Linked DNA regions of Homo sapiens: region 1 is linked to region 2. The links come from fine-mapping of genetic effects on gene expression. A gene starts in region 2. The other region holds a variant in brackets. All regions are shown on one strand. Distances are between the middles of the regions.

Evidence for each region. PIP is the estimated chance that this variant, and not a neighbour inherited with it, causes the effect. A credible set is the group of variants that fine-mapping cannot tell apart.
Region 1: its variant is the best candidate, but not a certain one, in a credible set for the expression of TYW2 in whole blood (INTERVAL, PIP 0.86).

The regions. Positions count from the first base shown.
Region 1 is chr8:124,501,093-124,504,123 of GRCh38, reverse strand. All of the region lies in intron 9 of TATDN1 (TatD DNase domain containing 1), which reads left to right. Among named protein-coding and RNA genes, the nearest start is that of MIR6844, 6.0 kb to the left of the region's middle. The variant C/GTTCC (reference allele first, on the strand shown) is at 1,453.
Region 2 is chr8:124,449,422-124,451,921 of GRCh38, reverse strand. It overlaps TYW2 (tRNA wybutosine-synthesizing protein 2), which reads right to left and starts at 1,102. Exons shown (of 1, transcript NM_017956.4): 1 at 1-1,102. The coding sequence starts at 994.

The DNA of each region.
Region 1 (3,031 bases), 52 kb before region 2:
TTAAGAAATTAAACAGTACATTACTATTAAAAGTTAAAGCTCGAAAGTTATAGACTACTACATTATGTTCTAATAATGGAAAACAATTTTGTGTTGAGATCTGCAGCTGGCTTTCTCTGGTAATCCAATTTATTCTCAGGTCATTTGATCCCTTGAAAACATGTGTTCACAGCATTATGTATACATATACACGTCATATCTGACTATGGACGAACGGTTTATTCTGTGACAGTCATACATCTCTGCAGTCAAAGAAACCGAGGCTCAAAGAAATTAGGAAACAGGTATAGAGTTTCTCCAAGTATGAGAACCCATGTCCTCTGGCTTCTCACTCTGTGATCTTTCTGCTGTTGTACCACACTAAACTTCACACACTCAGTACAGTCAGCTAGCACAGCTAGGTCTCTGGGTTGGTTTTGTCACATATGTAAGAGCTTCTACCAGTGACTTTTCACAGGATGTCAGTGTAGCCTATTAAATCAGTTGCAAAATAGTATAGGAGTTTCTGTCCTTCTTCATTGTCTCATACCCTTAAAATTATTATGTTTCCAATTGCATTATTTTTGACTAAAATCTAGGGAAATAGAATCATGGAATTATGTATTTGCTCTAGAGTTCAGAGTTTAAATGTCTAAGATGCTTTCATATTTAAATTAATGGTTTAATTAACTTTAAAATTAATTAATATGCAAGGGAATATATGCATAGAGATTAAAAAGTCAAGTAGTACTAACAGATATGAACAAATATCAGAGTCCCCCCAGCATGACCTTACCCCAAGTCAGCTTTTGTAGCAGCAATAATTTTGCTATTTGTCACCATATTTCTAAATAATATCCATATACTATTGTCTCTTGATTCATCCCCTTTGTCTATTCTCATTGGGGTATATGAGCACATTAGTTCTTATATCCCGTACTAATCCCCTACCTCCATTCTCTGCATATCACTCTCAATGTCGTTATTTCAGAATTTTTGGTTATATGCATACTCAATGTTTTCATTATTATGTCTATATAAATGTTGTTTCCTTATTATGCCTATATAAATATATAATTTCACAGTGCTATGCCAAGTATGAGAGGGTTTCAAGTTTTTTGTTTTTTGGTTTCTTTTTAAAGATAGGGACTTGCTTGCTCTGTAGCCCAAGCTGGAATGCAGTGGCGTGATCACAACTCTGCAGCCTTGACCTCCCAGGCTCAAGCAACCCTCCCACCTCAGCCTCCTGAGTAGCTGGTATTACTGGTGCATGCCACCACACCTGGCTATTTTTTAAATTTTTAGTTGAGACAGGGTCTTGCTATGTGCCCAGGCTGGGCTTCAAGTTTAAGAAAGCCAAGTAAATAAAAATATGAGGGAGGTTAATCCAGGAAAACAAAAAGTAGTACAAGAAAAGAAATGTTAAGCACAGTATACCACATGAGCAAACCTATGTAGATAATCTAATAGTTC[C/GTTCC]GTCAGTTGCAGACCCTTCCATGTGTTTCAATTTGGACTAGTTCCTATTTTTAGATCCCATGTATTCCTTGCGTGTTTGTTTTAGTGGAACACATTCTATAACATCCTCTGAGGATGTTTTCATGGGAATTAAGTTTCTTTTAAATACAAGCCAGTATTTCTATTTAATAAGGTTTCCCATTTAGTGATGAGCAACTACACGATTCTGAAGTCAAGTTTGAAATACATCTTCCCATTTTGAAAATGAATTTTTTTTCTGCTCTTCCTCTTACAAGTTAGCCTGGATAGTTAATGAAAGGGGAGAGAACCCCACTTTTTTTTTTTTTTTTTTGAGAGGGACTCTCACTCAGTCGCCCAGGCTGGAGTGCAGTGGCGCGATCTTGGCTCACTGCAGGCTCCGCCTCCCGGGTTCACGCCATTCTCCTGCCTCAGCTTCCCGAGTAGCTGGGATTACAGGTGCCCGCCACTACACCTGGCTATTTTTTTTGTTTTTGTATTTTTAGTAGAGACAGGGATTCACTGTGTTAGCCGGGATGGTCTCGACCTCCTGACCTCGTGATCTGCCCGTCTCGGCCTCCCAAAGTGCTGGGATTACAGGTGTGAGCCACCACACCCAGCCCCCCACTTTCAATGGATAGTTCTCTTGAATAAAATTCAAGATCAGAAATCATTTTCATTGAGAATTTATACTGTCCCATCAGTAGGTTCCAGTGTTGATGAAAAGTTGCTACTCTGATTCCTAATCCTTTACCTGTGACCTAGTTTTCTTCTCTTGTGAAAGGTTTTAGTTTTTCATCTCTGATGTGAAATTTCACGAAGGTGTGTGTTGATGGTTTTCATCACGCCTGGTGTTGCTTTTTCATTAGCCCTTCCAGTGGGGGGCACATCTTTACCCGTCCTTGGAATTTGATTTTTCTCTTCTGTTCTTTTCTTGGGCATACTAGACTGATAACTCGTATTCTTTTTATTCTATTTCCATTGTTTCCCTCCTTCCAAAAAAAGTGCTATATTTTGTAACCCTTTTTATGAAATTTACTTCAACTTTTGTTTTCAATTTCTGAATACTCTATTTTTATACTGCAGTGTCTTCTCATCTCTCTAAAGACATGAATTATAGTTTAAAGTTACTTTCTGCTTGTCTTCCTGCATTTGTTTCCTCACAGTCACCTTTTCTTCTTTCCTTTGGTCTCTGTGATGATGGAAACTTTCTTCAAATGTCAGGCAGTCCTTCACTGTCTATTTAAAAAAAGAAAAAAAAAAGCCATTTGGAAGCTCTCTAGAAGGCATTCCAGCAACTGGCAGGCTCAGATGGCCAACTGACTTTTTGCTAGGGATTCCCAAATGTCAGTTTGTAGAGATCTTTTTCTGGGTTGGTTCAGTTTCTCCAGAAAGGGATCCTGTGTTCTCTGCTGGAAAAGTGGGGAACAGTGGAGGGAAGGGGTTTGTAAATGTCCCTGACAGTATTTTGGAGCAGGATGGGTTAGAGGATCTCACTGTTTAGTGGGCTGCCCCAGTCTCCATGCTCAGGCCTGTGCCTGACGCCTGTACTCCTCTGTGCTTGTTGTTCTCCAGCTGTTTC
Region 2 (2,500 bases):
TGCCTCCAGCATCCTGCCTTAACACTTGGCAGGCAATGGGCCAGCCTTCTTCAGAGCTGGGAATCAGCCCCAGGATCACCCTATCTGCAATATTTGAGAGCTTCAGTTTTCTGTTATCTCCAAAGTGTATTTGGCACCGATCTGCTACTCCATTGATCTCAAGGTTATTTCTCAGAGCAACTACAGCATGGGGATTCCACTCACAAGCATGGACGAAGGCAGCACCAGCATGAACTAGGAAAGGCAATGTAAAATAACCAATCCCTGCATAGAGATCCACCAGCACTTCTCCAGCACAGGACAACGATGCCACTCGAAGCTTCTCAGTGATGTTTCCAAAGGAGAACATACACTGGGTCACGTCAAACTTATAACGGATACCATTATCCACATGCTCTACCCAGCCATGGTCACCCAGCAGCAGTGTCACTGCTGGAGTTCGAGTACCATCCGGTGATACCCGCCCTCGTTTTGCCAAACGCTGGACGCCAAGTGCCAAGGCAACGGTCTCCCAGAGTTCCGGTCCCAGATTTTTCCACTGCTTGGCTTGGAAACAGTCTTCACTCAGCAACAAGAGATTACCATGCCGTTGCCATGATCGGGGCAAATCAGCCTCCAACTCGGCTGACCACTTGACTCCCCGACCCTCCACCCAGCGACTCACCTCAAGACACAATTTTTGGGCAGGTGAACAACCCTGGGCCCTCTTCGAAGGAACAGGATCCGGGAGCTGCGTGAGCATACAGGGACTGCCTGGGGCAACACGATTCCTCAGCTCCTGCAGGTGCTGCTCTGGAAGCGTCTCTCCCAGCACCGGTAGCGCCACCGAGCCATCCGGCATCTTTTCCACACGGTGCTGTGTATCAAAGAGTTTCTGCCTCTGGAGATATTCTCTGTATCGCTGGGTAAACCAAGGCTCAGTCACAACTGCGACAACAGCCACGGGCTTCCCACTTTCTCTCTCCATGTTGCTAACAACCACATTCTCTCTCATCACCTCAGCGATACTCCATCTCCTCAGAGTCGGCTCACCAGGCTGACTAAATTCCCGGTCTTAAATAAGGTAGCCTGCAGCTCACCCGGCCATGCCGGTGCCGGAAATGACGTGCAAAGAGGCCGGAACTAAATATATTGATGCGCTTGCTTGAGAATGGCGTTGCCGTTGCTGTGGAGAAGCTGCGGCCGCCATCTTTTTTATGGTCAACCATTACTTTTTTTTCAGCCTAGGAAGACATTTATAACAGGGAATCTTATGGACTAAAAGACTTCAAATTGCTATTTTCCAGAAACCTCATGCACTCTCTTCAGTGCTGCTCATGAATTCAAAGAGAAAAATTAACATGAAATTGTCAGAGGCGCATGAACCAGAGCAACTCCATCTTAAATAGGAGCTGGGTAAAATGAGGCTGAAACCTACTGGGCTGCATTCCTAGACGGTTAAGGCACTCTAAGTCGCCAGATGAGATAGGAAGTCAGCATAAAATACAGGTCAAAAAGACCTTGCTGATAAAACAGGTTGCAGTGAAGGAGCGGCCAAAATCCACCAAAACTAAAATGGCCACGAGAGTGACCTCTGGTGGTGCTCACTGCTACACTCCCACCAGCGCCATGACAGTTTACAAATGCCATGGCAACGTCAGGAAGTTACCCTATATGGTCTAAAAAGGGGAGGCATGAATAATCCACCCCTCGTTTAGCATATCATCTGGAAATAACCATAAAAATGGGCAACCAGCAGCCCTCATGGCTGCTCTGTCTATGGAATAGCCATTCTTTTATTCCTTTACTTTCTTAATAAACTTGCTTTCACTTTGCACTGCGGACTTGCCCTGAATTCTTTCTTGCATGAGATCCAAGAACCCCATGTTGTAGTCTGCATTGGGACCCCTTTCCTGTAACAAAATGATGATCTGAATTTGGAGAAAGCTTTCCCATAGCCTAATGCTGCTCTCAGGTTAGCATCAGCAGCCACCTTATTTTCTGAAAGTGAAGAGTCAGATACAGCTCCCTTTTTCCCTTTTCATGCAGATATAGTCATCACTGTTTCATTGTCCTTTGGTCCAAGAAACAACTATTTGAAAGTCAGAAGGATCTGAGTTCCAGTAAATCGTATCACCCCTCAAAATTGGAATCTTCACTTATAAAATGGAATCTAATCTTCAGAAGATTGCTATAGTGAGTAGAGACATTATAGTGTCTTAGACAATAACTAGTAAAGAGTAGATACTTAAAAAGATACAAAGTAACAAGTTGGCTAGCTCACAGGTACTAAATACCTGTTGAAATGCTTTGATATTCCTAAAGAAGACAAAGGGGAATTCCATATAGACTAAATCAAATAGTTGGATATAAGAACTGTAAAGAAACCCTATCACTTCTACTTCACTCCCGCTGTCAGAGGAGTCCAAACCAGAGTGACTCCATCTTGAATAAAGGCTGAATAAAGCAAAACCTGCTGGGTTACATTCCCAGAAAGTTAAGTACTCTCCATAATAAGACT